Linked DNA regions of Homo sapiens. The main gene of each other region encodes a partner of the protein of the gene in region 2 in a complex. Each region holds a gene or a part of one and is shown on either strand. Other genes may lie near its edges. A codon is read from its position in the direction of its gene.

Region 1 (11,004 bases), on a different chromosome or scaffold from region 2:
TGAGGAGAAGTTGGTTAAGGGGTATAAAAATACAGGTCGATAAGTTCTAGTATTCGAGAGTACAATAAGGAAATTATATTTAACAATGATTTACTCTATATTTCAAAATAGCTAGAAGAATTGTAATCTTCTCAACACAAAGATAAACGTTTGAGGTGACAGATACCCTAATTACCCTGATTTGATCATTACACGCTGTATAAAGGTATCAAATATCACATGTACCCCTAAAATATGTACAACTATTATAAATATATATAGGTGGTGGGGGATACAGGCACCACAACAGCAGACAATGTACAGCTATGACGTATCAATTTTTAAAAACTATGTAACAGAGAGCCCAATTTTAAAAAAAAATGCATTTACACACATCACAGGAAATACCTGGACGGAAGGACACTTAGTCAATGCTTTCCCATATATAGACTTTTCTCTATTAGGCAAATAGATACAAATATAAAAGATGAAAATGCTCACAATGCTTATCACAGTTTGTAAATACATATTTGCGTAATTATCTAATTGTTGTTTATTCTCCAAACTAGACTATTAGTTTCTTAAGGACAGAGACAATGTCTTTGCTTCCCATTGTATTCTCAGCACCTAGCTGAATGCCTAGCACATAGTAAGTTCAATAAATATTTGTCTTTTTTTTTTTTTTTTTTTTTTTGAGACTAAGTCTCGCTCTTGTTCCCCAGGCTAGAGTGCAATGGCGTGATCTCTGCTCACTGCAACCTCCGCCTCGCGGGTTGAAGTGATTCTCCTGCCTCAGCCTCCCGAGTAGCTGGGATTACAGGCACCTGTGACCACGCCCGGCTAACTTTTGTATGTTTAGTAGAGACGGGGTTTCACCATGTTGGCCAGGCTGGTCTCGAACTCCTGATCTCAGGTGATCCACCCGCCTTGGCCTCCCAAAGTGCTGGGATTACAGGCGTGAGCCTCCGTGCCCGGCAATAAATATTTGTTGAATGAATTAATAAATGATCTTTCTTGGGCTTTCTGGAATGCATGAGAGAATCTGCATTTTTCAGATTTACCACAAGATGGGCATTCATTTTAGTTTTACATCCATTATTACCTAGTACTAATAAATAATGAGTCAATTATCAGAAGTCACTCTAAACTCTTTTTGTGTCTTTCAGTATTCCCAAATGCATATTTCTGTTTTTCTCCCCCAGCAGTGTCTTATCTGATTAAATGCATATTTCTTACAAGACTTTACATTTGAATATTGCAATAGGAGTAAAATTTCAAAAAATAAAAATAAAAAAACCTTACATTTGTGAAGTAATCTTAGGGTTGGATAAAAAGGCCCTTCTCTTTGTCTAAAAAAGAGTAATTCTCCATTTACTGTAAGGATTTCTATATGTTCATGGCTGTAAGACAAATGTCACAAAGTACCAAGTTAGATATTTTCTTTCAAAAATTCACAATATAAAACACGCATATACAGTGATAAACTTTCTTAAAAAGTCAGTAAAAATCCTGGCCAAAAAATATTGTTTACATTGTTTTTCCTATCATGCAAGTCCAGTAGAGAAAAAAAGAAAAATATTACCTGCTACAACCAATTTTATTTCACATTTTATTAATTCCATTGTTAGGTAATTCAATAAAACAATTCTCTAAACAACAAACTGAAATAAATTAAATCCAACTCTGAACTAAAACATTTAACTCTTTACTAGAACAATCAATACACAAAGCCACATTTTTTCAGGGACATAGAAAATCTTTGAAAATACAAATATTGGAGTTTTAGAGTTATTCTGTGTCTACCCCATTATTAATCTATCAATAGTTAATCTGAAAATAATTCCATTTAGTATGAGTGCAATCTAATCATTAAATATTCAGCTATACCGAGCTTTACACAGACAAAAACAAAGACTTACCATCGGACTATTTTGACAGGATCTTTCTTAGGCATGATTTGATTAAGCCATGGTTCAATACCTGGAAATTGCTCTATCAATTGATTCTTAATACCCTTAATAACTGAAGTTTTCAACTGGATGCAGTTGGACACATTTTCTTTTTCATCAAATCTGCCAAGTAATTTTTGCAAGAAAAGAAAAGGCATTTCTAAGTAGAGGTATCAGAATACCTAAAGGTACTGTTCTAATTAGTCATTTATTCCCAACCAAGTATTTAGATACTTAATTATGAAATAAATTGTTCTTTTAAAAAAAAATACCATCTCCCTTTTACTCTGTCCAGCACAAAACCAATGTCTTAATACAATATTGAAATAAACTGTCAAGTATACAGCAATTAGCTGGGGTTAGGGGGAGGAATATGAGACATACTTTGCACCATAATCTGTAATTAGCTACACAAATGCCTTTCCTGGAAAATCTTATTCAATTCTACCCAGGAAGAAACACAGGCTCCCACCAATAATAAAACCTGAGATCAGAAAACAAAACCCTCAATTCTTGAGATACAAAAGACCAACCCAAGCATAACATAGAAAATCGGCCCCTGCTAGGCTATGTAATCTGCTGAGATTTTTTTTAAGTGATGATAATAATGATTTCTAAGATCCCTATTCGTTTTTGCTCAAAATTTCATGCACAAAACCCACCTTCCTTTGCCCATGTTCCCCCTTTGCTTTTTGCGTCTACCAAATCTGGAAGGCAAACCCACTAGTAGGTTCCCAAGGAATTTTTGTCTTCCTTACACTGAATAGCCTATGGGGCAATCGTTATTTTCAAGGCAAGGTTAATCTGGCAGCTAGGCAATAGGCATGACAGGCCGCTTGCTTCCTGTCACCCAGACTCCTTCACTCCCATGACCCAGGAAGTCAAGCCTTCCTTTATTCAGTTCATAACTAATAAACATATGGCAGTGAGCGCAGGGCTCCCCTCTCAGCTACAGAGAATATGCCTCTAAATCACAGTGCACGGATGTGATTGGTAGAACCCTAGGAATGGAGACAGAATTGGGGGAGGGGGCAAAAGAGAAAGAGGGGTAAGGAGAAAAAACAATGGGAGTGGAGGGACTGAAACCCAATTAAGGACTACGGATGGAAAGCTTAAAGAAGTGTTCAAGTTGGGAGTGAGAGCATAGTACTATAGAAAACCTTAGGGAGTCAGGATGGCAGGGGCGGGGGAGAGAGAAAGAGGATCTTAGCTCTCGCCCTCTTCCCCACCCCCACCCCACCGCCTTTGTGAGCAGCCGATGGAGGCCACAGCATGTCCTTACTTCTTGAACATGATCCAAGGTGAAGGGGGCGACGATAGGGAAGGGCCCGGAATGGGAAAGAAATTGAATTTGCAGGGGTCCGGCAGATCCCCTCACACGAGGAAGGCCGGCACTGACAGTCGGAGCTGTAGTCGTTATCCGGAAAACGAGAGCCAGCCGCGCTTTACGGCTCTCAGTCAAATCTGACTACTTCCGCTCCTCTGGACTCCACGTAGGCGCTTTTGCCGGCTCCTTTTAGGCAACCGGTTCCTCAGCAGTTGGAGGTAGCTGAAAGGGCGGGACTTGAGAGGGAAGAAGTGATAGAGCAATTGCAGGAAGAGAAGAATGGAGGGGGCGGAGAATCAATCAAAGTAGCATTTATGGCACTTGCGTCAGTTACGGGTTCCTCAAAGGGTCAAGATTCTTCCGTGCTTCGTTGCTACCTATCGTCAAAGTAAACGATTTTTTTAGAGGGAATGGTTTCTGTCCTGTCTGAGGCAACCGAATGGATTGGTGCTTACCTACCAGCATGAATCCAGGCAACCCTCATGGCTTCATGTTAAAGTGCTGGTAGGATTGCCAGGTTTAGCAAATGAAAATACAGGATGCCTATTTAAATTTGCATTTCAGGTAAACAATGAATATTTGTTTTAGTGTAAGTATACCTCATTAATATTTTGGATATACTTACACTAAAAATATACAGCGCTTGTTTAGCTGAATTTAATTGAGCATCCTGTTTTTTATCTTATAACCTTATTCACTGGCAACCGTACGATGCTCCCAAAGTTTTTTGCGGGTTTTTATTGAGACAGGGCCTCACTCTTGCCCAGGCTTGAATGCGGTGGTGCTATCATGGCTCACTTGCAGCCTCTACCTCCTTGGCTCAAGGGATCTTCCCACTTCAGCCTCCCAAGTAGCATGGACTACAGGCACACACCATCATGCCCGGTTAATTTTTTTATTTTTATTATTATTATTATTATTGTAGAGACGGGGTCTATGTTGCTCAGGCTGGTTGCAAAGTCCTGGGCTCAAGCAGTCCTCCCACCTTGGCATCCCAAAGTGCTGGGGTTACAAGCGTGAATGACTGTGCTCCCGTAGAATAATTCCCATAGAATTATTACAGAAGGTAATCTGATTTAAGAGATAATAGCTAAAGAGACATGTTTTACTTATGTAATTTTTTTAAAAATAAAGCTGATAGAGAAACAAAATTATGCCAATCAAGAGTTTCACTTTGTTTTTTGTTTTAGAGACAGCATCTCACTCTGTCACCTAGGCTGGAGTGCAGTGGCATGATCACGGTTCATTGGAGTTGCAACTTCCCAGGCTCAAGTGACCCTCCCGCCTCAGCCTCCGGAGTAGTTGGTACTACAGGCATGCACTACCACACCTGGCGAATTTTAATTTTTTGTAGAGACAGGCAGGGTCTCACTAAGTTGCCCAGACTGATCTTGAACTCCTGGCCTCGAGCAATTCCCCGAACTCAGCCTCCCGAAGTGTTGGGATTACAGCCATGAGCTACTGTGCCTGGCCTAATCAAGGGTTTTGATCAGCCAAGAAATCATGGAAAAATTTAAAAACCTGAAAAGGCCCTACGCAGGAGGTGGGGTGGGTAGGCACTGACATCCAAAACAAATACACCAGTCTCCCCAGGGAGTAAATACTCTAGTCCATATTGAGGAGACGGGCCATTAGAGCAATTATAGCAAACAGTACTATGCATTTAAATGATCCAACTAACACCTTGTCTTAATTCTATGGTATGAACAATATTCTGATTATAATTTGGCTTCCCATGAAGATCTGCCCACAGGGAAAGAATTAGCTACGTTCCAATCAAATCTGCATGAACAATTATGTTTGCATTTGTAAATTAATAAATTGGCATTCTGGTTTATACAACACTCTCTTGTGAACATCCTTAGTGAGAATCCACATTCCCAGCATCCATCAACTCTGCAACATTTAGAATATTGACATTATGAACATGTGAAACTGATGTCCAGACCCCAAGCTGTGGTGACTGCCACACTGGCAGGATTATTTTTTTTTAATTTTTATGGGTACCTAGTAGGTGTATAAATTTATGGGGTATATGAGATGTACAGGCATGCAATGTGAAATAAGCACATCATAGAAAACGGGGCGTCCATCCCCTCAAGTATTTATCCTTTGAGTTACAAACAATTCAATTATGCTCTTTAACTTATTTTAAAATATACAATTAGGTTATTATTGACTATAGTCACAGTACTAGTTCATTCTCACACTGCTAGAATACCTGAGTCTGTGTAATTTATAAAGTAAAGAAGTTTAATTGACTCACAGTTCTGCATGGCTGGAGAGGGCTCAGGAAACTTACAATCATGGCAGAAGGGGAAGCAAACACATCCTTCTTCACAAGGTGGCAGGAGAAAGAAGTGTGTGGAGCAAAGGGTGAAGAGCCCCTTATAAAACTATTAGATCTCGTGAGCACTCACTCACTATCACAAGAACAGCATGCAGAAAGCCACCCCCATGATCCAATCACCTCCCACCAGGTCTCTCCCCAGACATGTGGGGATTATGCAGATTACAATTCAAGATGAGATTTGGGGGGGACACATCCAAACCATGTAAGTCACCCTATTTTGCTATCACATAGAAGGTCTTAGTCATTCTTTCTGTTTTTAATACCTATTAGCCAACCCCACCTCCACTACCCAACCCCCCACTACCCAACCCCCCACTATCCTTCCCAGCACCTGGTAACCATCCTTCTATTCTGTGTGTCCATGAGTTCAATTGATTTGATTTTTAGATCCCACAAATAAGTGAGAACATGTGACGTTAGTCTTTCAGGGCCTGGGTTATTTCACTTAACATAGTCAACTCCAGTTCCATCCATGTGATTGCAAATGACAGGATCTCATTTTTTTATGGCTGAATAGTACTCCATTGTGTATCTGTACCACATTTTCTTTATCCAAACATCTGTTGATGGACACTTAGGTTACTTCCAAATCTTAGCTGTTGTAAACACCGCTGTAAGAAACATAGGAGTGCAGATATTTCTCTGATATACTCATTTCCTTTCTTTTTGGGTAGATACCCAGGAGTAGGATTGCTGGATCATATGGTAGCTCAATTTTTAGCTTTCTGAGGAACCTCCAAACTGTGCTCCATAGTGGTTGTACTAATTTACATTCCCACCAACAGTGTACAAGTGTTCCCTTTTGTCCACATCTTCACCAGCATTTGTTATTACCTGTCTTTGGATATAAGCCATTTTAACTGGGGTGAGATGATATCTTGTAGTTTTGATTTGCATTTCTCTCATGACCAATGATGCTGAGCAACTTTTCTTTTGCCTGTTTGCCATTTGTGTGTCATCTTTTGAGAAATGTCTATTCAAATATTTTGCCAATTTCTTGATTGTATTATTAGATTTTTTCCTATAGAGTTGTTTGAACTCCTTATATATTCTGGTTGTTAATCACTGGTCAGATGGGTAGTTTGCAAATATTTTCTCCCATTCCATGGGTTGTCTTTTCACTTTGGTGATTGTATCCTTTGCTGTGCAGAAGCTTTTTAACTTTATGCAATGCAGTTTGCCCATGTTTGCTTTGGTTGTCTGTACTTGTTGGGTATTGCTCAAGAAGTCGTTGCCCAGACCAATGTTGTGGAGATTTTCCCCAATGTTTTCTTGCAGTAGTTTCATGGTTTGAGGTCTTAGATTTAAGTCTTTAATCCATTTTGAATTGACTTTTTTATATGTCAAGAGAGAGTCTCGCTCTGTTGCCCAGGCTGGAGTGCAGTGGCGCGATCTAAGCTCCCTGCACCCTCTGCTTCCCGGGTTCAAGAAATTCTCCTGCCTCAGCCTCCTGAGTAGCTAGGATTACAGGCGTGTGCCACCATGCCCAGCTAATTTTTTTTTTGTATTTTTAATAGAGATGGTGTTTCACCATATTGGCCAGGCTGGTCTCAAACTCCTGACCTAGTGATCTGCCCACCTTGGACTCCCAATGTGCTCAGATTATAGGTGTGAGCCACCGTGCCCGGCCAGTGTATTTTACTTTTCATTATAGAGACCTTTCACTTCTTATAGTTCAGTCAATTCCTAGGTATTTAATTTTACATGTGGCTATTGTAAATGAGATTATTTTTTAAATTTCTTTTTCAGATTGTTCACTGTTGGCATATAGAAATGCTACTAATTTTTGCATTTTGATTGTGTATCCTACAATTCTAATGAATTTATCAGTTCTAATAGTTTTCTCATGGAGTCTAGTTTATTCTAAATATAAGATCATATCATCAACGAACAAGGATAATTTGACTTCTTCTTTTCCAAATTGGATGCCCTTTGTATCTCTCTCTTGTCTGACTGCTCTAACTAGCACTTTCAGAATAACAGTGATGACAGTGGGCATCCTGTCATGTTCTGGATCTTAGAGGAAAGGCTTTAAGTTTTTCCCCCTTCAGTATAATACTAGGTGCAGGTCTATCGTATATGACTTTTGTTATGTTAAGGTATGTTTTTTCTATCCCCGGATATTGAGGGTTTCTATCATGAGGAAATGTTGAATTTTATCAAATGCTTTTTCAGCATCAACTGAAATGAAAGGTTTTTATTTCAAACTGAAACTGAAGGTTTTTATCCTTCATTCTGTTGACAGGCTGTATCACATTGATTGGTTTGTGTATATTGAGCCATCCTTGAATCCCAGGGATAAATCCCAGTTGGTCATGATGAATGATCTTTCTAATGTATTGTTGAATTTAGTTTGCTAGTATTTTGTTGAGGATTTTTTTTTTCTTTGAGACGGAGTCTCACTCTGTCACCCTGGCTGGAGTGCAGTGGTGCGATCTCGGCTCACTGCAAGCTCTGCCTCCCAGGTTCATGCCATTCTCCTTCCTCAGCCTCCCGAGTAGCTGGGACCACAGGTGCATACCACCATGCCCAGCTAATTTTTTTGTATTTTTAGTAGAGACAGGGTTTCACCATGTTAGCCAGGATGGTCTCGATTTCCTGACCTTGTGATTCACCCACCTCAACCTGGGAAAGTGCTGGGATTACAGGCATGAGCTACCGTGCCCGGCCGAGGATTTTTGCATCAGTGGTCATCAGAGATATTGGCCTGAGACTGAGTCTTGCTCTGTCACCCAGGCTGGAGTGCAGTGACACGATCTCAGCTCACTGCAACCTCCGCCTCCCAGGATCGAGTGATTCTCCTGCCTCAGCCTCCCAAGTAGCTGGGATTACAGGCACGCGTCACCACGCCCAGCTTTTTTTTGTATTCTTAGTAGAGACAGGGTTTCACCATGTTGGTCAGGCTGGTCTTGAACTCCTGACCTCGTGATCTGCCCGCCTCTGCCTCCCAAAGTGCTGGGATTACAGGTGTGAGCCACCACGCCCGGCTGTGGTTTTCTTTTATTGTGTCTTTGTCTGGTTTTGGTATCAGAGTAATGCCAGTCTCATAGAGTGAATTTAGAAGTATTCCCTCCTCCTCTATTTTTTGGAATGGTTTGAGTAGGATCAGTATTAGTTCTTCTTTAAATGTTTGGTAGAATTCAGCAATGAAGCCTTTGGGTCCTGGGCTTTTCTTTACTGGGAGACTTTTTATTACAGCTTTGATCTCATTACTTGCTTTTGTGCTGTTCAGGTTTTGGATTTCTTCCTGATTCAATCTTAGTAGGCTGTGTGTGTCTAGGAATTTGGCCATTTCTTCCAGATTTTCCAATTCATTGGCATATAGTTGCTCATAGTAGCCTCTAATGATCCTTTGAATTTCTGTAGTATCAGTTTTAATACCTCCTTTTTCATTTCTGGTTTTATTTGGATCTTCTCTCTTTTTTTCTTAGTTAATCAGGCTAAATGTTTGTCAATTTTCTTTAACTTTTCAAAAAATATCTTTTTGTTTCATTGATCTTTTGTATTGTTCTCTTCATCTCAATTTCATTTATTTCTGCTCTGAACTTCACTATTTCTTTTCTTCTACTAATTTTAGGTTTGATTTGCTCTTGCTTTTCTAGTTCTTTAAGATGCATCATTAGATTATTTATTTGGAGTTTTTCTTCTTTTTTGGATGTAGGCACTTAGAGCTATAAACTTTCCTCTGAGTACTGCTTTTGCTGTATCTCATGGGATTTGATAGGTTGTGTTTCCATTATCATTTGTTTCCAGACATTTTTCAGTTTCCTTCTTAACTTCTTCACTGATCCAGTGGTCATTCAAGAGCATATTGTTTAATTTCCCTGTGTTTGTATAGTTTCCAAAATTCCCCTTGTTATTAATTTCTAGTCTTATTCCATTGTGGTCAAAGAAGATGCTTGATATTATTTCAATTTTTGAATTTTTTAAGACTTGTTTTGTAACCTAAGATATAGTCTATCCTTGAGAATTATCCATGTGCTCAGGAAAAGAATGTGTATTCTGCAGCTCTTAAATGACATGTTCTGTAAATATCTATTAGACCCATTTGGTCTACAGTGCAGATTAAGTTTGATGATTCTTTGTTGATTTTCTGTCTGAAAGGTCTGTCCAATGCTGAAAATGGGGTGTTGAGGTCTCCAGCTATTATTGTTTTGGGACCTATCTCTTTCTTTAGCTCTAATAATATTTGATTTATATGTCTGGGTGCTCCAGTGTTGGGTGCATATATATTTAGAATTGTTATATCTTCTTGCTGAATTGACCCCTTTGTCACTACACGGTGACCTTCTTTGTCTCTTCTTCTGGTTCTTATCTTGAAATCTATTTTGACTGATGTAAGTATGGCAAATCCTGCTCTTTTTTGGTTTCCATTAGCATGGAACATCTTTTTCCATTCCTTTATTTTCAGTCCATGTGTGTTTTTATAGATGAAGTGTGTTTCTTGTAGCAACAGATCAATGGGTCTTGTTTATTCATCCATTCAGCTACTCTATGTCTTTTGATTGGAGAATTTAGCCTATTTACATTCAATGTTATTATTGATAAGTAAGGACTTATTCCTGCCATTTTGTTATTTGTTCTCTGATTGTTTTGTGGTCTACTCTTCCTTGTTTCATTCCTGTATTCCTCTAGTGAAGGTGATTTTCTCTGGTGATATGACATAATGTCTTTCTATGTTTTTTTATCCATTGTATGTTCTTCAGTTTGAGGTTACCATGAGGCTTGCAAATAATAACTTATAACCCATTATTTTAACCTGATAACAAGTTGACACTATACACATAAAGGAACAAACAAGCAAAAAAAAAAAAAACTAATAAAAACTCTACACGTTAACTTCATCCCCACCGCTTTTTAACTTTTTATTGTTTCTATTTACCTCTTATTGTATTGACTATGTCTTGATGAGTTTTTGTAGTTGTTATTTTTGATTGGTTCATCATTTTGTCTTTCTACCTAGTATAAGAATAGTTTACACACCACAGTTACAGTGTTATAATATTCTGTGTTTTTCTGTGTACTATTACCAGTCAGTTTTGTACCTTCAGGTGATTATTGCTCATTAATGCCCTTTTCTTCCTGATTGAAGTACTCCCTTTAGCATTTCTTGTAGGACAGGTCTGGTGTTGATGAAATCCCTCAGCTTTTGTTTGCCTGGGAAAGTCTTTATTTCTCCTTCATGTTTGAAGGATATTTTCATCAAATATACTATTCTAGGGTTACAGTGTTTTTCCTTCAGCACTCTAAATATGTCACACCACTCTCCTAATCTGTAAGGTTTCCACTGCTGCCAGATGTATTGAAGCTCCATTCAATGTTATTTGTTTCTTTTATCTTGCTGTTTTTAGGATCCTTTCTTTATCCATGACCTTTGGGAGTTTGATTATTAAATG
Region 2 (11,551 bases):
CATCACTTCCCAGATTAAGAACTTTTCAAACATCTTATCGTACTTCTCCAGACTCAACTCCTACCAGCCCATGGTCCAACCACAATGAACTTCTATCCATGCCATTCTTTTCAGCAAACACCTATTCATCCTTCAAGACTCTGCTAAGTTTCCTTGAAGCTGATGTTATAATGGCTTGTCTTGGATTTTAATCCTGGCCCCACCACTTATACAATTGAGAAGCTTATCATCAATAAAACTGTAATATTTCAATTTTGAAGATTAAATATACAAACATAAAATCCACTCAATACTTTAACTTTCCCTTTTTTCAGTTCTCCCAAGTAGAACTGGTTGGTTCTTTATTCTCACTGCAGTCTGCTCACCCCTCTAGTATACAATTAGTACATTATAACTCACCTGTTAAAATGTTTGTCTTCCCAGTTAAGCTCAGTTTCCAGGAGATAATTATGTCTTATTTCTGTATATGGAGCACAATGCTTGCCACAGAGCAGATGCTTAAAACGTGTTTCCTAAATGAATTTGAGCTGCTCTCTGAAACCCCAGACTTTAGCTGAGAGCAAATTCTCTAATTTGCATCCTTCTTTTTGCAAAAGGGGAAAGGGAGGGAGGGGGAAGGAATGATAAGAAAAATGCCTATGTCACTATCGCTTCTATTTTTCTCTTTAATCAGTTGGGTATTCTATTGGAGGGTTTTCCCTCTTCTCTAAGCACTCCAGCAATACTAAATGTCTGTCAAAACTACATCCAGTTTATTTCTCCCATCTCCCTTGTCCTCAAATCTGATTAACTGCTTTATACTGTTCATCCTACCATAATTTATTTTTCAACCTCTCTTCCTCACTTATGCCACTCATTTAAATGCTCATTAATTTTGTCTAAAGTCTTATTATAGCCTGGCCAATAAGCCTGCCTCCCTCAATTGTTATCTTGCTGCCAGATTCATCTTCATGTAACTTCACTGCTCCAAAACTTTCAATGACTTACAATTATCTACAAATCAGGTGCCCCAGAACTTGGCCCCAAACCACGTTGCCATAATTTCCGGCTGCCCCTCTTCATGAATTCCACAATACAACCAAACTGTAACACTCGAAACTCCCTCCACACTACCCACTATTAAATACTTTCCTACCTCCACTCCTTTGCCTGGCAAGTCCAACCTTCAGCCCTTCTGTGCCTGCCTGAATGCAACCTTTCCTTCAAATCCCCATTTGGCTGTGGTTGCCTCTATGAAGTCTTCCCCTAATTTCCTACAAATCTCTCCCCTCCTGTACTGACACTGCAGCTATTAGTCCTTAATCTTTATTTCTTGTCTCTTTCTTCTTTTTTTTCTGGGATGGAGTTTTGCTCTCAAAGGCTGAGTGCAGTGGCACGATCTTGGCTCACTGCAATCTCCGCCTCCCAGGTTTAAGCGATTCTCCTGCCTCAGCCTCCCGAGTAGCTGGGATTACAGGCGCCTGCCACTATGCCCAGCTAATTTTTGTATTTTTAGTAGAGACAGGGTTTCACCATGTTGGCCAGGCTGGTCTTGAACTCCTGACCTCAGCTGATCCACCCACCTTGGCCTCCCAAAGTGCTTGGATTACAGGTGTGAGCCACCGCGCCTGGCCTATTTCTTGTCTCTTTCTTTCAGCATTCATCATCTTCCCTGTTAAGTTATATGTAGACAGACAGGGCCTCTGCCAATTTATATGCCTCCACAGAACTTAGCCGAGGACCTTATACATCAGAGATACTAGGTAAAAATTGTTTATAGTCTTTGTAAATTGTTGATTATGATGTGGACTCTATTAACAATGTCATCATACCTTCTTACCAAGCTGGCTAACAAAATCCACTACTTTTACAAAATGGTAATGTTAGAAATTAAAAGGTACAGTCTAATCCCATCTCCACTACTAGTTTCTTCAATTAAGCATAAGAATGTTTTTACATTAAGTGGAAGCCTGTACTGTTCTGGAGAGTGTTGACAAGGTAGAAAGGCACCTTTCAGTAGTTTCCACTTTAGTCCTAGTTCACTGACCCTCTGAGGTCACAGGGAATAGATCTTATCCTTTACTCACATAGGTTTCCAAATTTAAAGAGTTGTTTCACAGGTAATCATTATATAAAAATATAATAGGAATCTATATTCTGAGCATCTTGTTAAAATAAATGTATCAGTTTTTCTCACATCCTTAGTTTTGTTTTTTATTTTTGAGATGGGGTCTCGCACTGTTGCCCGGGTGGGAGTGCAATGGCGTGATCTCGGCTCACTGCAACCTCTGCCTCCCGGGTTCAAGTGATTCTCCTGCCTCAGCCTCCCAAGTAGCTGGGATTACAGGTGCCTGCCACCAGGCCTGGCTAAGTTTTTGTATTTTTAGTAGAGACGGGGTTTCACTATGTTGGCCAGGCTGGTCTTGAACTCCTGACCTCATGATCTGCCTGCCTCAGCCTCCCAAAGTGCTGGGATTACAAGTGTGAGCCACTGCGCCCGGCCCCTTAGTTTTAATTCATAATTACAGAAAAATAAAACAAGATTTCTAGAGACTGACATTTTCACTAAGCTTCCAAACTTCTCACCAACTAAGCAATTCTCTATGTGGTGAAATCTACCCAGTTCACCTCGTTCCAGGTACACCCCAAGAATCTTTCTGGCTTTTCTCTCTTTCTCCCTTAGAAAAGCTCATATACTGTCTCTCTCTGCTGCCAAATGCAGCATACTTGGATTCTTCCATTTGGAGAAACTCAAATTCACTGTATTGCAAGTCAGCCTATTATCTATCTCCAAATCTAATCTTTCTCAAAGTCATCATTTTTAGTGGTGTTCTGGTTTTTCAACTCTCTCAATTGTGAAATATCTTTTTCCTTTTTCACCATTAAACATTGTATCTTTTCTTTGATTAACCCTCTTTATTCACTTTTATACTGCTTACACTCTCAGCAAGGCACTTATTTACCTCAAACCTAGATTTCTGAAAGTGGCCTTCAAATTTGTGGGTTCTATTTCCTCCAAATAATGCAGCATATTAATCTCTTGTCACTTTATTTTCCTGCTCAAAAAATGATTAGGTTGGTGCAAAAGTAACTGCAGTTTTTGCCATTACTTTTAATGGCAAAAAGATATCATTTCTCCTTCTACGGTACTTAAATGTCAGATGTGGTCTCTACTGCAGTCACAGAATGTAAGGTCCACGTGAACAAGGATCTTCTGACTTATTCACTACTCAGGCCCCAGCACCTAAAACATCACTAGGCACACAGTAAGTTCTGAGAAATATTTACTGAAAAAATATTTACTTGCCCTTTTACTGTCCTGTATCTTCAGATTTTTCTGAAAGTTTCCAAGATGCGAATACATACAGCATTTACAATTCACAAATATTTCTATATTGAAAATGAAGAAAAACACTCGAAAGTGAAAAAGATCTTGATTAAACCTAATACATATATCATGATTCAAACCAAGAAGACTTTCCTCACTGTCCTACCACCCAACACTCCAACCTCACCTTCTCCCACTCCTTAACGGGCCACCCTCCCTATACGATACACCAGACAAACTCAAAGCTGCTCACTTCTTCACAGACAGCCATCAAGCTTTTTCTTACATAGTCGTGCGCTTTGTCTGGGACGCCGTTCCCCACCTTCTCATCCAGTCCTTGCCATCCTTAACTCATAATCTTCCAAGAAGCCCTCCTTTGACAGCTAGACTAGCATACACCTTGAGGACCTTCAGGCTGAAATAACCTAGTTGCACATCCTGTTACAAATGGACTGTAAGCTTCTTCAGGCAGAGTAGCCAGACACAAATCACCCAGGTGGGGAAACTCTGTTAATTCATGCCTCCTCCTCCCCAGGACTCCTCTCCCCCAGTACAAACTCACCAAATGAAAAGGATGGGGAAGAAAGCTTACCAAATGTCAAACTGTTATTACAATGCATAAAAGTATAGTGAGTAAAAGTCATTCTGTGGCTACCAACACTTGCCTCCACAATAAAGGACTCGAAGTGGGTAATCGGCATCTAACTTGGCACTGTTCCTTGGGTCTCCTTTGCAGTCAGCCCCGCTGGATTCAGAAATGTCAGCAGCCATTTCACAAACCTGTAAGCAAGGAAAATAACACACCCTCACTATTTTAGAATCAAGACCCCAGAAGAGCAGTGTTCCTCTCAACAGAAACCTCCCCACCCCAAAGCTGTTTCAAGTCTGTTGTTGAGTGGGGGATACAAGCTGCATTCGATTCATAAAATATGAGCAATCCCAGGCACAACATCTCCTTGCTCCACAGGTCTACAGGGAAGCAAGCAGCAAATGGACCATGAAGGATGGGGCAGAGGGACTCACTAGAGAAAAACAGGAAGCAATGGGGAAGGAAAGATGGGGTGAGTACCCACGGCAGACACGGAGCAAAAAGGTCTGAGGGTGATCTGGGAGGGATGCAAACTGCAGTGAGAGAAGGGCTACAAAGGCGCCGAATGGAGAGAGGCTGGAAGTGCCTAGGAACAAGGGGTGGGTCATCGGAGAAGCCCGGGGTGCAGGGTGTGGGGGCAACTAAACGCCATGAGAGGGGCCTGGGGAGTCTAAAAAGGGCATGGGAGGGGGCGGGGTAACCAGAGCGTAAGAAGGATGAGGAGAGAAAACGAGCGCAGAATGTAAGAGCACTGAGGGGACAAGGGCGACCAGGTCTGAGGCGAAGGAGCAACCCCGGGGACGCCAGAAGGGGCCCTTGTGGGCGGGGGTGTGGAGAGGCCCGGCCCGGCCCCCTTCCGCCAGGCAGCATCTCAGCTTCCCCCACACTCTCTACGAGCTTCTCGGGAGCGGGAGAAGCACTTGGGGTCGTTACCCAGGCGGTCGCACAGGCCCCGCCGGCTCCGCTCCCGCCGCTATCGCCAGCTGAACCAACACATGCAACTCGTCTCCCCGGCCAGGGCCGCCCGAGCGCCCGACCGCCAGCAGCGCTCCCGCGAGACAATGAGCCTTTATCGCGAGATTCCGGCCGCCGCTGGGCGGATGTCGCGAGAAGCCGGAAGACGGGGGCGGAGAAAAATTGCGGAGCGTGCGCCTTGCCCTCCGGTGGGGGGCGTGGCCAAGAGGCCGAGAGGCGGGCCGCCGGCAGGCGGTGCTCGTCACCCGTTGGAGAGGATGAATCCTCGAGATGGGCGTGCCGAAGGGAACGTGACTTGCAGACGCAGAGAGCGCACCTGAGTCACAAATGACTCCCTATTAATGAGTCCGAGGATCATCGCCTCGGTGTCTGCGGTGCATCCTGGAGTCCTGACTAACCTCCAGCTACTGCATAAATCACTCCCGTGCGGGGAGATTGCAGCCGGATAGAGCGTTTGGTCGCATTTTAACACCATGCACTGAATTAAAGGAAGGTGTTCTCCCTCCCTCCCTCCCTCCCTTCCTTCTTTCCTTCCTCTCTTCTTTTCTCTCTCTCTTCGCCGGATGGAGCGTTTGGTTGCGTTTTAACACCATACACTAAATTAAAGGAATTCTTTTTTCTTTCTTTTCTGTTCTTTCTTTTCTTTCTTCTTTCTCTTCTTTCTGTCTCTTTCTTCCCCTTCCCTCCCTCCCTCCCTTCCTTCCTTCTTTCCTTCCTTCCTCCCTCCCTTCCTTCCTTCCTCCCTCCCTTCCTTCATCCTTTTCTTTATGTTTTGACAGGGTCTCACTCTGTCACCTAGGCTGGATGGAGTGCAGTTGCACAAACACGGTTCACTGCAGCCTCGACCTCCCAAGTAGTTGGGAATACAGGCGCGCGTTACCACACCCAGCTAATTTTTAATTTGTTTATAGAGGTGGGGGAATCTCCCTATGCTGTCCAGGCTGGTCTCGAACTCCCGGACTCAAGGGATCCTCCCGCCTCCGCCTCCCAAAGTGCTGGGATTACAGGCGTGAGCCACCGCGCCCGGCCTACAATTTTTTTTAATGAAAAAAAGAAAAATGTAAGAGTATGGGAATATATGGGGAAAAGAAAGATCAGATTGTTACTGTGTCTGTGTAGAAAGAAGTAGACATAAGAGACTCCATTTTGTTCTGTGCTAAGAAAAATTCTTCTGCCTTGAGATGCTGTTAATCTGTAACCCTACCACCAACCCTGTGCTTCCTGAGACCTGTGCTGTGTCAACTGAGGGTTAAATGGATTAAGGGCTGTGCAGGATGTGCTTTGTTAAACAAATGCTTGAAGGCAGCATGCGCCTTAAGAATCATCACCACTCCCTAATCTCAAGTACCCAGAGACACAATACACTGCAGAAGGCCGCAGGGACCTCTTCCTAGGAAAGCCAGGTATTGTCCAAGGTTTCTCCTCATGTGATAGTCTGAAATATGGCCTCGTGGGAAGGGAAAGACCTGACCATTCCACAGCCCGACACCTGTAAAGGGTCTGTGCTCAGGAGGATTAGTAAAAGAGGAAGGAACACCTCTGTGCAGTTGAGATAAGAGGAAGGCATCTGTCTCCTGCTCGTCCCTGGGCAATGGAATGTCTCGGTGTAAAGCCCGATTGTATATTCCATCTACTGAGATAGGGGAAAACCGCCTTAGGGCTGGAGGTGGGACATACTGGCAGCAATACTGCTCTTTAAGGCATTGAGATGTTTATGTATATGCACATCAAAAGCACAGCACTTTTTTCTTTACCATGTTTATGATGCAGAGACATTTGTTCACATGTTTTCCTGCTGACCTTCTCTCTACTATTATACCCTATTATCCTGGCACATCCCCCTGTCCGGGAAATGCCTGCTAATGATCAATAAATACTAAGGGAACTTAGAGGCCGGTGCGGGCACGGGTCCTCCGTATGCTGAACGCCGGTCCCCTGGGCCCATTTTTCTTTCTCTACAATTTGTCTCTGTGTCTCTTTCTTTTCCAAGCCTCTCGTTCCACCTGACGAGAAATGCCCACAGGCGTGGAGGGGCAACCCACCCCTTCAGGAATAGATCTTGGTTTCAAGAATAGTTGGATCCTGCAGATAAAACAACGTATTCTAGAACCTTTCTCTCACTCTTGCTCTCAGAGAATTCTAAAACAAATGTGAGAAGTGTGTATGTTTGGTGATTTTGGGTAAACACATGGGAGTTTCTTCATACTATTCTTGTAGATTTTCTGTACATTTGAAATTATGTCAAATTTACAAGTTTTTTTTTTTTTTTTTTTTTTTTTTTGAGACAGAGTCTCGCTCTGTTGCCCAGGCTGGAGTGCAGTGGCACGATCTCGGCTCACTGCAAGCTCCGCCTCCCGGGTTCACGCCATTCTCCTGCCTCAGCCTCCCGAGTAGCTGGGACTACAGGCGCCTGCCACCACGCCGGGCTAATTTTTTGTATTTTTATTAGAGACGGGGTTTCACCGTGTTAGCCAGGATGGTCTCGATCTCCTGACCTCGTGATCCGGCCGCCTTGGCCTCCCAAAGTGCTGGGATTACAGTTGTGAGCCACCGCGCCCGGCTTACAAGTTTTTTTTTTTTAAGGTTGCTATCTCTTTTCATCTGTTGGCTCTATCCCTATGTTTTCTTCCTACTGCTTACTTACGTTATTTTCTATTAGTTTAACCATCCCAGAAGAAAGAGATATTTATCTTTTCCAACAGTTCCAGGGAACAACTCAGGTGAATGTCTCATTAGCATTTTGAGTCATGTGCTCATCCCTGGGCCAGTCACAGTGGCCACAGGGATGGAATGATCTGATTGGCCAGACCTGGTCACATGCCTATTTTTAGAGGCAAGGGGTGGAACCAAATCCCCAATCCTCCAAACCTCGGAGATGGATGGAGAGGGCGGAATCTGTTGCCCAAGGAAAATCAGGATGCTAATGCCCAAGTAGAGTGCCTGGATGCTGGGAAGACAAAAACAACACATAAATAGGCCATCATCTGCACTCTTGATCCCAGAAGCCCTGCTCAAAGGGAGAAGGATTAGGGGACTGAGATGAAGAGGGAGGAGCGGCACCACAGCAGTTAATAAAAAGCAACCTGTTCTGCTTCTCCAAAAAGTAGACGTTTAATAAGGTCATTTGCTCTTGCAGCACAGGACTGACAAGGGACACAACCAGTTCTGTCACAAGAGGCCCATAAACATTCAATGTAGAGGAGGACTAATTTTAAAAGATGATACAATTTTATCGGGATGAGATAAGCACTTTGTTAAGTCAGGCAGCAAAACCTGTCTTTGCTTAGTCAAACCAAGGACCCCCTCATATGAGGGACCCAGAGTATCAGAAGTATCAGCATAAACGCATCTCACTGGTTGAAGCTGGGATGACCCGCCACAGGTCGATTCTCAGTGGACTAAAAGCACTGGCAGAGGATCAGCTTGACTCTAATTCTGTGCTCCCAGACACTCTGAGAGTCTTACTACAATGCATTTTAGTCTTTTATTGTAAAAATATTACATGCTTCTTGCAAAATATTCAAACCATACAGAAGCATATACAGTAAAAAATGAAGGTTTCTCTCTCCCCAGAGTACTGTGACAGTTTGGTCATATAATTATAATAATAATAGTAATAGGGCGGGCGCGGTGGCTGAAGCCTGTAATCCCAGCACCATGGGAGGCCGAGGCAGGCGGATCACAAGGTCGGGAGATCCAGACCATCCTGGCTAACACGGTGAAACCCCGTCTCTAATAAAAATACAAAAAATGAGCCGGGCGTAGTGGCGGGCGCCTGTAGTCCCAGCTACTCGGGAGGCTGAGGCAGGAGAACGGCATGAACCAGGGAGGCGGAGCTTGCAGTGAGCCGAGATCACGCCACTGCACTCCAGCCTGGGCGACAGAGCAAGACTCCGTCTCAAAAAATAAAAATAAAAATAAAAAAATAATAATAATAGTAGCTACAACTTACATAGCACCTCCTCTGTGTTATACACTGTTATAAGCACTTTACACAGATTAACTCATTTTTCCTTCATATTAGAGTGATGTAATATTGTTCCTGTTTTACACAGGAGGAAACAAAGAGGTGAAATAGCTTGCCTAAGATCTCACAGCTACTCAGCGAGAGAATTAACTTTAAACCAGGCAGCTTAACTCCAGAGTACAAATTTTAAAATGTATTCCAGATTTTAAAATGTATATATAATTTTTAAAATTGAGTTGCAATTCACATAACACAATAGCACAATAACACAAAATTAACCATTTAAAGTGAGCAATTCAATGACATTTAGTATCTCCATCTGGTGTGCAAACACCACCTCTATCTACTTCCAAAACATTTCCATCACCCCAAAAGCAAACCCCAAAATCATTAAGCAGTCATTCCTCATTCTCCCCTGGCAAACGCTAACCTGAGTCCTGTCTTTATGATCTATCTATTCTGGGTATTTTATATAAATGAAATCATACTGTATGTGACCTTTTGTGTCTGGCTTCTTTTACTTACAATAATAATTTTTTTTTTTGAGACACAGTTTCGCTCATGTTGTCCAGGCTGGATTACAATGGCGTGATCTCAGCTCACTGCAACCTCTGCCTCCCAGGTTCAAGTGACTCTCCTGCCTCAGTCTCCCAAGTAGTTAGAATTACAGGTGCCCGCCACCACAACCGGCTAATTTTTTGTATTTTTAGTAGAGACAGGGTTTCACCACGTTGGGCAGGCTGGTCTCAAACTCCTGGCCTCAGGTGATCCACCCGCCTCAGCCTCTCAAAGTGCTGGGATTACAGGTGTGGGCCAACGTGCCCAACCAGAATAATGATTTTGAGACTGATACACTTTGTAGCATGACGCATCCTTTTTATAAAAGGATTCATTAAACCATTAAAAGCACTTCATCCCTTCAGCATTTTAATGGCTGAATAATATTTTCCATTGTATTTATATACCACAAATGTGTTCATCCATTCATTCACAGGTGACCATTTGTCTTGTTTCTACTTGTCCTAGTCAAGATCCTCCAGAGAAACAGGACCATAGAATTTTCTGTTTCTATAAAGACATTTATTTTGAGGAACTGATTCACACAATCATGGAGGATGGCAAGTCCCAAATCTGAAGGGTAGGCCAGCAGGCTGGACGCCCTGGGAAGAACTGATGTTGCTGGCAGAATTCTTTCTTGCTCAGACGAGCTCAGTCTTTGTTCTTCTAAGGCCTTCAACTGATCAGGTGAGGCACACCCACACTGTGGAGTGCAACCTACTTTACTCAAAGGCCACACATTTAAATGTTAATCTCATCTAAAACACACCCTCATCTAGAATAGTATTCAATCAAATATCTGGGCACCATGGCCCAGCCAAGTTAACACATAAACTAAACCAACACATCACCTTTTGGCTATAGGAAGACTGCTGTTATGAATATCCATGTACGAGTATTTGAGTCTCTGTTTTCAGTTCTCTTGGGTGTATACCTAGGAGTGGAATTGCTGAGTCGTGTGGCAATTCTATGTTGAACTTTTTGAGGAACTGCCAGACTGTTTCCCACAGCAAATGAACTTTTTATTCTCCCACCAACAACGTACAAGGAAATAAAAAACATCATATTTTAATTTATAAAAATCGAATTATACCACACAAGCTGCAAGGTGGTAGTTCGTTTTTATTCACTTAAGGACATATCTTGGACATCTTTCTGGGTTAGTACATTTAATTCTGCATCTCATAGCAGAAATGCTTAGAACAGGGCCTTTCCAAAGGCAAATGTTATACAAGTGAATGCTATTATTCTTTTTAATAAGTATAGCTTCTTTTTTTTTGAGACGGAGTTTCGCTCTCATCGCCCAGGCTGGAGTGCAGTGGCACGATATCGGCTCACTGCAACCTCTGCCTCCTGGGTTCAAGCAATTCTCCAGCCTCAGCCTCCAAAGTAGGTGGAATTACAGGTGCTTGCCGCCACGCCCGGCTATTTTTTGTATTTTTAGTAGAGACAGGGTTTCGCCATGTTGGCCAGGCTGGTCTCGAACTCCTGACCTCAGGTGATCCACCTGCCTTGGTATCCCAAAGTGCTGGGATTACAGGCATGAGCCACTGAGCCTGGCTAACAAGTATGTATTTTATTTAACAAGTGTAAATTTTTTTTTGAATGAAGTCACTATAATTTATTTATCTCATTCCCCACTGGTAAACATTTCAGTTACTCTCAATTTTCTTTCACTTAAAAAATACTATTCTAGTGGCTGGGCCCGTGGTGGCTCATGCCTGTAATCCCAGCACTTTGGGAGGTTGAGGTGGGTGGATCACCTGAGGTCAGGAGTTCAAGACCAGCCGTTAACATTATGAAACCCCATCTCTACTAAAAATACAAAAAATTAGCCCAGCGTGGTGGTGGTGGACGCCTGCAATTCTGGATATCTGGGAGGCTGAGACCTAAGAATCACTTGAACCCAGGAGGAGGAGGATGCAGTGAGCTGAGATCGCACCACTGCACTTCAGCCTGGGCAACAAGAGTGAAACTCCATCTCAAAAAAAAAAAAAATACTATTACAGGCATTCTTTTTAAAATTTTATTTTTATTTTTATTGAAATTAATAATTTTTTTTCTTTTAGAGGCAAGGTCTTACTCTAATGCCCAGGCCGGTCTCAAATTTTTGGGCTTTAGCAATCCTCCCACCTCAGCCTGCTGGGATTACAGG

The links.
Region 1: the proteins of DENR (region 2) and MCTS1 are in contact, whole or in part, in a crystal structure (PDB 5ONS), measured with the Homo sapiens proteins. Residues at the interface, in NP_003668.2 of Homo sapiens: Ala25 (codon at 4,006), Tyr27 (codon at 4,000), Pro28 (codon at 3,997), Leu29 (codon at 3,994), Val31 (codon at 3,988), Tyr33 (codon at 3,982), Cys37, Ser38, Leu39, Pro40, Glu42, Tyr43, Glu45, Tyr46, Met47; in NP_054779.1 of Homo sapiens: Trp39 (codon at 1,948), Gln42 (codon at 1,939), Arg83 (codon at 1,297), His86 (codon at 1,288), Lys87 (codon at 1,285), Tyr88, Pro89, Phe90, Lys99, Ile102, Lys103, Leu106, Ala136, Lys139, Gln140, His141, Ala142, Leu143, Leu170, Asn171, Trp175, Lys178.

Annotation. Positions count from the first base shown.
Region 1 is NC_000023.11:120,596,454-120,607,457, reverse strand, and holds the start of MCTS1 (malignant T-cell-amplified sequence 1), read right to left. Parts: upstream 3,358-11,004; 5' UTR 3,222-3,357; coding exon 3,211-3,221; intron 2,760-3,210; exon of another isoform or gene 2,605-2,759; coding exon of another isoform or gene 2,591-2,604; intron 2,052-2,590; coding exon 1,899-2,051; intron 1,380-1,898; coding exon 1,282-1,379; intron 1-1,281. UniProt on the Homo sapiens protein: Translation regulator forming a complex with DENR to promote translation reinitiation.
Region 2 is NC_000012.12:122,746,229-122,757,779, reverse strand, and holds the start of DENR (density-regulated protein), read right to left. Parts: upstream 4,957-11,551; 5' UTR 4,830-4,956; intron 4,088-4,829; 5' UTR 4,079-4,087; coding exon 3,973-4,078; intron 1-3,972. UniProt on the Homo sapiens protein: Translation regulator forming a complex with MCTS1 to promote translation reinitiation.